Regions from separate parts of the Homo sapiens genome. Here region 1 is linked to region 2. Evidence: fine-mapped expression QTL. A gene starts in region 2. The other region holds a variant in brackets. All regions are shown on one strand. Distances are from middle to middle. Region 1 has its middle 11 kb from the start of INO80D. Region 2 holds the start of EEF1B2 (eukaryotic translation elongation factor 1 beta 2).

Region 1 (5,382 bases), 62 kb before region 2:
GTGTGTGTGTGTGTGTGTGTATATGCCACTTGTGGTGGCATGAGCCTGTAGTCCCAGCTATTTGGGAGGCTGAGGCAGGAGGATCGCTTGAGCTGAAAAGGTTGAAAAAAATTTTTTTAATAATAATAGATACATACATACGTATTCAAGAAGTGTCTATAAATCACTTACAGTGTGCTAGGCACAGGTGGTAAGGATATTGGGGAAACAGCTCCTGCCTGCGAGTGTCTTCAGTCTGGCAAGAGACAAAAGAATTATTGTTTTAGGGTTATTTATTTTTATATAGATCCTCTTGATATGTAAGCTTTTATAAATATAAGCTTTTGAAAATATAAGCTCCACGAAGCCTGGAGATTTTGTCTTTTTTTGTTTTGTTTTTGTCTAGTTTGTTCATTTGGCCTCTTGAACACTGCCTGGGATGAAATATACACCGTAAATATTTGTTGGATTAATGAATATTTGAGATTTTGGATTCTTTACTATTTGATAATTAAGGTATGGCTTTTAGATGGTTAAATGAGAAGGACTCTGAGGAATTGAGCATGGACTTTCTAACCATCTCACTACAAAAGTCCAAGATGATTAGCAAAATATCTGTGTAATTCTAGTTATTTCAGCCACCCTCAAGCATTATATTCCAATTGGCCATACTCTAGTTTAAAAACCTGGGAGTGGTATTAAGTATTCTTTTTCTTTTCTATTGACATATTTCTGTTGTGCATTTCTATTGCCAAAGATACTTAAAACGTGTGCATATCCTAGGTTATTTTAAGATGACTAGCCGTACAGGTCAAAAAATTTAAAAATGGAATATAAGAGAATCACCTGGAGTAAAAAGCAAACATAGAAGATGTAAAAATATATATGGTTGCCATTATAGCCTTTTGTGTGGAAACTCTAGCATATTTGAGCAAACATCTTTGAGTATTCCCTTTTCACATTTTGTAGGACATGATCAGATATACCATCTGCTTCTCTGGGTAACTTGGCAGCTGTTAATTGACTAACATTCCCTGAGTTCTGTTGTCACCATCAGTGGTTCTAGAACATAAGAACAAAAAAAGATTGTAAGAATAGCCTTCATAACCCAAGTTTCCTTTAAATCATAGAGAGAAAAAAAATAAGAACCTATATTGACCAACTGGGAAAAACTAAAGGAATATTTACATAATCATAAGTCATTTTAATTTTCTCTAAGGCTATTACTACAATATATCTAAATATTTTAAATGTATATATAAAGCAAGAGCAATTAAGTAATTTAATACCAACAGAATTTATATTTCAAATGGGGGGAAAATGGATCATCTCATTTTGTGGTAAGATATACAGATGCTTCCTGTTGCCCTGTCCAGAATGATGTTAACATTAACCTCAGAGGAGGCCGTTAAGCCAGCGTTGAGCTAGACAGTAACCATTATGTCTCTCTCTATTGAGGAGGAGGGGAAAAATGATGTTACCTAAATTTATGAGCTGCAAACTGAACACTTCATACAATGATGATCAATGATATGATAAGTTATCATTCAATTTCTACGGTTTGTGTCCTCTCTGAAATGAAGCTAAGAAAAAAAATTGTAGGGAAATAACAGACTGCCGTTTGCATTATTAGAAAGCTCACGTAACTGCACTATGCAGGCCATTTGTCTTTTTTTTTTCCTGTTAGAAGGGAGTTTTTATTTTCTCTGAATCAAACTATTAGAGTAATACATTACTGAGTTCATTTTTGCTTCTATCTCTTTATCTTGACTTGAGTTCAGAAAACTTGGAACATGTGCATTCTTTTAAGCTGTCTGAAAGGATTTTGTGTATTTATGGTTTTACATGCCGAGCTATTTTTCCTCAGAAATTCTGACATCAAATGTGTGAATTTTTTCTCACACCAACCAATTCTCCAACTTTCCGGACACCAACGGGGTATCCTACAATTCAATTCAATTCTAACATTAACGGCCCAGCATTAGCAGCAGACTCCACAGGTTTTAAAGAGTCCTCAATTCCAATGCCATTCGCAAGTATTGGGTCCCCAGGTTACCCACACACACTTCTTGGGTACAAAGTCAGGGAGTTCCCACAACTTTCTCCCCTTCAGCTTGATAATTTGCTACAATGACTCACAGAACTCAGGAGCACTCTTATATTAATATTTACTGGCTCTTTATAAAAGATATAACTTGGGAACAGCCAAACAGAAGAGATGCAGAGAGCAAGATATTGGCAGGGGTGTTGGAAGCCCCGCGCCCTCTCTGGGCACACCACCCTCCTAGCAATTTGATGTGTTCACCAACCCAGAAGCTCACTGAACCTGTCATTAGGGGTTTTTATGGAGGTTTTGTCAAATCAGGATGACCAATTATTAACTCAGTCTTCAGCTCTTCACACTTCCCCACATATTGAGGGGATGGGCTGAAAGTTCCAGGCTTCTCATCAAGGTCTAGTCTTTCTGGTGACCAGGCCCCATCCTGAAGCTATCTAGGGCCCCAGCAAGAAACCTCAGTAGAACAAAAGATGCTTCTATCAACCAGGAAATTCCAAGAGATTAAGGAGCTCTGTGTCGGAAACTGGGGACAGAGACCAAATATTAGAACAAACGACGCTCCTATCATCCCTATCACTCAAGAAATGGCAGTTTTAAGAGCTCTGTGTCAAAAATCAGGGACAAAGTCCAAATAGATAGATAGATAGATACACATATATATACATATCTCTCTCTCTATATATATACACATATATATCTATTTCTTACTATGTCACACATGCTAACTCCTTATTCTGAAATAAAAGCAAAAAGCAAACACCAAACCAATAACAAAAAGCCTCCACAATGTACAGGTGTTATGGGGTCACATCATGATAAACCTATTGCGAATTGGGAATATTCTTAAATAAAAAATGCATTTAATGTACCTAATCCACCAAACA[T/A]CATAGCTTAGCCTAGCCTACCTTAAATGAGCTTGGAACACTTACAATAGCCTACAACTGGGCAGAATCATTAAACACAAAGTCATTTTACAATGAAGTGTTGGCTGGACGCAGAGGCTCATGCCTATAATCCCATCACTTGGATACTGAGGCAGGAAGATTGGGCCGGGCACGGTGGCTCACGCCTGTAAGCCCAACACTTTTGGGAGACTGAGGCAGGTGGATCACCTGAGGTCAGAAGTTCGACACCAGCCTGGCCAACATGGTGAAACCACGTCTCTACTAAAAATACAAAAATTAGCTGGGCGTGGTGGCAGGCACCTGTAATCTCCTAGCTACTCCGGAGGCTGAACCAGGAGACTTGCTTGAACCCAGGAGGCGGAGGTGGCAGTTAGCCAATATCGTGCCATTGCACTCTAGCCTGGGCGGCAGATCAAGACTGTGTCTCAAAAGAAAAAAAAAAAAAAAAACTGGACGACTTAGTACAGATGGTCCCTGATTTACCATGGTTTGACTTAGGATTTTTCAGCTTTACCATGGTAACCATACAACTATTCTGTCTTTCAGTACAGAACTCAATGAATCGGCCGGGTGCAAGTGCCCGTCTGTAATCCCTGCACTTTGGGAGGCCGAGGCGGACGGATCACGGGGTCAGGAGATCGAGACCATCCTGGCTAACACGGTGAAACCTTGTCTCTACTAAAAGTACAAAAAATTAGCCGCGCGAGGTGGCAGGCGCCTGTAGTCCTAGCTACTCGGGAGGCTGAGGCAGGAGAATGCCGTGAACCTGGGGAGCGGAGCCTGCAGTGAGCCGAGATCGGGCCACTGCACTCCAGCCTGGGAGACAGAGCGAGACTCCGTCTCAAAAAGAAAAAAGAACTCTTTTTTTTTTGACAGAGTCGTGCTCTGTTGTCCAGGCTGGAGTGCAGATCTTGGCTCACTGCAGTCCCGACCTCCCAGGCTCAAGTGATCCTCCCACTTCAGCCTCCTAAGCGGTGAGTAGCTGGGACCACAGGTGCCCCACTATGCATGGCTAATTTTTTTGTTTTTCTTTTTGTAGAGACAGGGTCTCAATACGTTGCCCAGGCTGGTCTCGAGCTCCTGGGCTCAAGCAATCCTGCCAATTAGCTGGGATTATAGACATGTGCCACCATGCCCAGCATATATTTACTTTCATTAATCTATACTACTGCATCAAAATTATTATAATGTTGTGGCATGTTAAGTCTTTTTTTTTTCTAAGACAGAGTTTCACTCTTGTTGCCCAGGCTGGAGCGCAATGGCGCAATCTTGGCTCACCGCAACTTCCGCCTCCTGTGTTCAAGGGATTCTCCTGCCTCAGCCTCCGGAGTAGCTAGGATTACAGGCACGTGCCACCACGCCCGGCTAATTTTGTATTTTTAGTAGAGACGGGGTTTCTTCATGTTGGTCAGGTTGTTCCTGACCTCAAGTGATCCGCCCGCCTCGGCTTCCCAAAGTGCTGGGATTACAGGCGTGAGCCACCTCGCGGACTGCATGTTAAGTCTTTTGAAGCAGGCCGGGCGCGGTGGCTCACGCCTTTAATCCTAGCACTTTGGGAGGCCAAGGTGGCTGGGTTGCCTGAGCTCAGGAGTTCAAGACCAGCCTGGGCAACACGGTGAAATCCCGTCTCTACTAAAATACAAAAAAGTAGCTGGGCGTGGTAGTGTGCGCCTGTAATCCCAGCTACTCGGGAGGCTGAGACAGGAGAAACTCTTGAATCCAGGAGGCGGAGGTTGCAGTGAGCCGAGATTACCCCACTGCACTCCAGCCTGGGCGACAGAGCAAGACTCCGTCAAAAAAAAAAAAAAGGCTCTTGAAGCACACTAACTCTTCCAAAATTAAGCTCCCTTAAAGGAAAATAGAATTATTAAAATGAAAACAGTAAGCAACATAACTGTTACTATTTCAGCTAAGAATCTTAAAGCACATTACAGACACTTTTCATCTTAACAATTGGAAAAAACAAGTACTAGCAAGTGAATTGCTTAAGATTACATAGACTAGCCCAATTCTAGAGAGAAATAATTCAAGTGTATCTTATTGTCATCTTGTTGTTAAGTACAGACATATTCAGATTTCACCAGTTTCCCACTAATGTTCTTTTTCTTTTTTCTTTTCTTTTTTTGAGACAGGTTCTCACTCTGTTGCCAAGCTGGAGTGCAGTGGCACAATCACAGCTCACTGCAGCCTTGAACTCCTAGACACAAGTGATCCTCCTACCTCAGCCTCTCAAGTAATTGGGACTGCTGACTTGAACCACCATGCCTGGCTATTTTTTATTTTTTAGTAGAGATGGAGTCTTGCTGTGTTGCCCAGGCTGCTCTTGAACTCCTTGATTCAAGTGATCCTCTTGCCTCAGCCTCCCAAAGTCCTAGGATTACAGGCATGAGCCACTACATTTGACCTAATGTCCTTTTTCTCTTCCAGAGAGTTAATCTT
Region 2 (5,382 bases):
GTGATACTGAAATTGCAAATATCCAATCTGTTTCCTGCTAGTGAGTAATGTTGGGTAAATGAGTTTCTGGTTCTTTACTTATAGAGCAGGAGGAAAACAATACTTCCTAGACAATGAGCTATTAGTAGGGGCTCAACAAATGCCAGTTAAAGCTGAATTCAACTTAGGCAATACTGGCCACTGACAATCAGTATGTGTGTGTGTTTTGAGACAGAGTCTCACTCTGTCACCCAGGTTGTAGTGCAATGGTGTGATCTTGACTCACTGCAACCTCCGCCTCCCAAGTTCAAGCAATTCTCTTGCCTCCCAAGTAGCTGGGATTACAGGCACCTGTCATCACGCCCGGCTAATTTTTGTATTTTCAGTAGAGAAGGGGTTTCGCCATGTTGGCCAGGCTGGTCTCAAACTCCTGACCTCAGTGATCCACCCGCGTCGACCTCCCAACGTGTTGGGATTACAGACGTGAGTCACCGCGCCTGGCAGACAACCAATTTTAAAGCACTCTTTCTTTGAGCTCTTTTTCTTTAGTACCAGTACACACTGTGTAGATATTTTTGTTTTACTTACTAAACTGTAGGTTAGTAATCAATTTTAGTACCTACCAGACTGTAAGCTCCTTGAGGACAAGGAATTTGGACATTTCCCTTTTTTGAAGACCTAGCACAGGACCCTTATGAAAATAACCACCAAACAGTCTTATCACCAAGTTCTAGAACTAGAGTAGCATCTGTCCTATTAAAAACTACTGATGGCATAAATATAAACCTAAACTTACTCCATTAGAGCACTGACAGATTTGAAATCAACAATCAGTATTTCATACAATTTTAAAACTTTAATACTTTTTTATCTCCAATGCAATATAAAAATAGTACTCACTTTGGATAGGAAATCAACTAGAACTAGACTGTTGACATCCAGCAACAAAGCATAGCCCAACATAAGAAATACAGATTTGCAACACTTCGATATGTGCTTTGAACATTGATATGCCAAGTAGCAATAGAAATAATTATCTCTTTGGATGGAAAATGTTAATGACTAATCATTTCTTAAACTAGACTGGATACTTTTCCATATAGGGACTATGCTATTCCACGTTCTCCAACATGGATCCATCCATTTACTTCTTGCCTTCCAAGGTACCACCCTATCCCAATCCACCATCACTCCTTGCCTGGAGTATTTCAATAGCTTTTTTTTTTTTTTTTTTGAGACAGAGTCTCGCTCTGTCGCCCAGGCTGGAGTGCAGCGGAGCGATCTCGGCTCACTGCAAGCCCCGCCACCCGGGTTCACGCCAGCCTCCTGCCTCAGCCTCCCAAGTAGCTGGACTACAGGCGCCCGCCACCACGCCCAGCTAATTTTTTGTATTTTTAGTAGAGACAGGGTTTCACCGTGTTAGCCAGGATGGTCTCGATCTCCTGGCCTCGTGATCCGCCCGCCTCGGCCTCCCAAAGTGGTGGGATTACAGGAGTGAGCCACCGCCTCCGGCCTTCAATAGCTTAACAGGTCACCAAGCTTCCACACTATTCCCACACAGCCTCTCCCCTCTTGCCACCGGCTGTGACCTCAGACTGAAATGCTCTTCCCTGGCCCCTCCTTATCCTTCAAATCTTGGCTTAAAAGCCTTTTCTCAGTTTCATTGACCAGGCTATCTAACATTTACGATTCCCCCAGCATATCATCCATTTTATTCTTCTTTACGGACTCATTTCTGGCTCGTAGTAAATGTTCAATAACGGTTAAGTGAACTGAATCTCTAATTTCTGGTCGTTAATTTGTAGAGACCACTTTCCCGGATTTAAAAAGTGCAGGTGCTCTGGCAGCCTTAAGTCGGTGAAAACAAGAATATTCCGCAAAACAAAAATAACTTGTTTATTCATCAAAAACAGTTAACGTTACACTTCTATACCGTCAATTCGTGTGTGAACAGAGTTGTGTCTGATCCAAGACCTTACAGTTCAAGCACTGGATCCCAATAACCTGTAAACAACGTTTTGTTATTTGCAATGCAATCCTGGGCTAACTTTTCAAAAGTCGTTTTTCTCAATTTCCCGTTAGTTAAAGGAATAAAAAAATGCTGTCCAACGTGGTCAATGGACCAAACAAACAAGGACAACAAACAGAAGCGTGAGCCATTGCTAACACAACAGCGACCAAACAATCATGCACTGTATCAGGCGTGTAAAAATCTGGGGGGAAAGGCTTAGTCTTAAGGCCTAAGTCATCGGACACTGGTCCTCTCCCGGGGAATAAAACGGCCTCCTCCTCTGAGAGGGAAATGTCCTGAATTTTCCCTGCAGAGGGAAGGTCACCTGCAAGCCTACATTCGTGACAGCGTTCCCGAGGACCCCCTGATCCTCATCTTCTTTTCTGCTTCATCAGACCAGAGACCGTGGCTAAAAGCCCCCCATCTGCCGGCTCTCAGGGGCTTCCGAGGCGGCGGGGCGGGAGGCGGCGCCCAGTCAAGGACAACAGAAGACTACGTCGCGTGGGCCAAAGGAAACAGTCCCGTCAATAAATAAGCCTCTGGCCGACGCACCTCACCCTTCCCATCCATACAAGACCTCACCTTCTCCCCGGAGCCGCGGAGGCTGTTCTGCTAAACTGTCTGGACCACGACGACCCCCTAGGAGGCCGGGTCGCTTATTCAATATGGCGGCCTCGGCTAACTCTGTCAGCCGGGCCTGGAGAACGGAAAGCCCGGAGGGACTAGAATCCTTGCATTCGACAAGTTTGTCGGCAATTTCCGTCAGCCGACCAGAGGGCGGAGCTGAGGTCGGCCCAGCCCGGAGGCGGGAAGGACAACTTGGACCCGCAGTTCCGCCGGAAGTGGCCCCAGCCTCGAGGCCGGGCGTCTTCGGTCATCTCCGGCGCTTCTAGGGCTGGTTCCCGTCATCTTCGGGAGCCGTGGAGGTACGAACTTAAGACATGCCTATTTTATTAATTTACTTCCAAACGCAACGAAAGGTCCATGGACAATTTGTGGGCCATTTAATTCAGGGCCCCCAATTCGTACGTGGAGAAGTGGGAATGCAAAAGTACTTTGACCTTTAACCTTCGGTCCGGCGCGGTGGAGGGAAACGCCTCCGTCTCTATATAAGGAATTTTCCGGTCTCTTCGGGTCCTTTTTCCTCTCTTCAGCGTGGGGCGCCCACAATTTGCGCGCTCTCTTTCTGCTGCTCCCCAGCTCTCGGATACAGCCGACACCATGGGTTTCGGAGACCTGAAAAGCCCTGCCGGCCTCCAGGTGCTCAACGATTACCTGGCGGACAAGAGCTACATCGAGGGGTGAGCGGACGGGCTGAGTCGGGGTGGCGGGGAGGTTTCTCCGCCCGGGGCCGGGGCCACGTGGCGCAGCGTGTCGGCTGCCGCGGGAGGGAGGGAGGCCGGGCCCGGGGCCCTTTCGAGAGGGAGGGGAAAGCGCCCCGTTGCCGTCTCCCAAGGCCCTCGTGTGGGGCGAGCCCGGCCTCCGGGGAGCGGTTCACGAGCAAGGAAAGGTTAAAATGTGCTTTATTTACACTTAATTCAGCCAGGTGTTTCCGCATCGCTGCCCAGTTAATACATGTTAAGCTGTAGATAGAGCAACGCCAGACATTGCAGTATTTGAGGTCTACTTAGTGGCAGACATTTCTCAGGATAGCGCGGTGACCCAAACATATGGTTTGATTTGAAGGAGCTAATAAGAAAAGAAAAGCATTAAAGCAACCCTGCTGGGGTTAGTGCCCACTAATTAATGTGATGCATACGGTATTTATTATTTATTCGCTGGCGTTTGTTTTTCAAAGGTGTGTGTGAATGTTTCTGTGTCCTTGGCAGGTATGTGCCATCACAAGCAGATGTGGCAGTATTTGAAGCCGTGTCCAGCCCACCGCCTGCCGACTTGTGTCATGCCCTACGTTGGTATAATCACATCAAGTCTTACGAAAAGGAAAAGGCCAGGTAAAATCATCTTTGTATAGAGCTGAAGAATAAGACTGCTCTCGAAGTTTATCAGGATGTTCACATGACAAAACTGGACCCAGGCTACTTTAGTTTTGTTGGGATATTGTAAGCTAAATTTTTCTGTAACCTTAGAAGGCCAAGAGACTGAAGCCCTCCATTTTTTCACAGAACAGGTAGAACATGGACAGCAGCAATTCAACTTTTCCCCACACTGCCCTGCCAATGTGCCTCGACCTTGACCTGGGGGGCCCACCTCTGGGGTGAGAGGGTGGCTCATTCATTCAGTCCTTGGCCATTCTTCTGAAACTGCCAACAAGGGTGGAAGTTTGGGGAAGTGGACTCCAGTTCACTAAGAATGGAACTGAGCATACTTAATGAAATCTCAAACAGAAATGTTCATACTGAAAGAGTAAATCATAGTGAGTATTGAAAATAATGTCTCACATGGTACTAATGCTTGTCGGGTGAGGAGTTGAACATATGACAGTGTTTACCTGGGCGCATGTGAAAGGGTAAATTATGATTGCAAAAGGGATCTAGTGATAAGTAGTGATTAAAACAAGTTATTTTGTATTTTCTGGAAAAGGATGTTATACTAGCTCAATAGTGGTTGAATTTAAATGTTTTTCAAGCCTGCCAGGAGTGAAGAAAGCTTTGGGCAAATATGGTCCTGCCGATGTGGAAGACACTACAGGAAGTGGAGCTACAGATAGTAAAGATGATGATGACATTGACCTCTTTGGATCTGATGATGAGGAGGTATGGCGTCTTCTATAAAGAACATATCGGCCAGGCGCAGTGGCTCATGCCTGTAATCCCAGCATGTTGGGAGGCTGAGGCGGGTGGATCACGAGGTCAGGAGTTGAAGACCAGCCTGGCCAAGATGGTGAAACCCTGTCTGTACTAAAAATACAAAAAAATGTGGCAGGCATCTGTAATCCCAGCTACTCAGGCGGCTAAGGCAGAGAATTGCTTGAACCTAGGAAGCGGAGGTTGCAGTGAGCCAAGATCGTGCCACTGCATCCAGCCTGGGCGACAGAGCGAGACTCCGTCCCAAAAAAAAAAAAAAAGAATACATCGATCAGCAATTGTATCAATGTGGTTAAGCCAAATTGCCTGGATTTGAATCCTGGCTTTAATTTATATGCCTTTTTCAAATTCTGACTGGTTGCATGATGAATAAAATCAAATCACCATCTTTCGGCTGAGTTCGTGATGGATTTGCTTTTTTCTGATTAAGCCAGTCTTTTTTGTGATGACCCCACTAGCTTTAAGCAGAGGAACAACCAGCTTTCTGAAGTGGATTAATTTTTTTTCTTTACAGGAAAGTGAAGAAGCAAAGAGGCTAAGGGAAGAACGTCTTGCACAATATGAATCAAAGAAAGCCAAAAGTAGGTCATTTGTTTTTAACTTCATTTCATGTTAATGTAAGTAATC

The links.
Region 1: its variant is fine-mapped to the expression of EEF1B2 in lung (TOPMed, PIP 0.94).

Annotation. Positions count from the first base shown.
Region 1 is chr2:206,094,751-206,100,132 of GRCh38, forward strand. No RefSeq gene overlaps it. Among named protein-coding and RNA genes, the nearest start is that of INO80D, 11 kb to the left of the region's middle. The variant T/A (reference allele first, on the strand shown) is at 2,923.
Region 2 is chr2:206,156,769-206,162,150 of GRCh38, forward strand. EEF1B2 (eukaryotic translation elongation factor 1 beta 2) reads left to right here and starts at 3,127. Exons shown (of 6, transcript NM_001959.4): 1 at 3,127-3,291; 2 at 3,820-3,942; 3 at 4,578-4,704; 4 at 5,270-5,336. The coding sequence starts at 3,212. NDUFS1 (NADH:ubiquinone oxidoreductase core subunit S1) reads right to left here and starts at 2,676. Exons shown (of 19, transcript NM_005006.7): 1 at 2,573-2,676. It overlaps SNORD51 (small nucleolar RNA, C/D box 51), which reads left to right and starts at 5,113; the gene lies at 5,113-5,182. RefSeq lists enhancers at 2,354-2,763, 2,874-3,133 and a silencer at 3,394-3,463.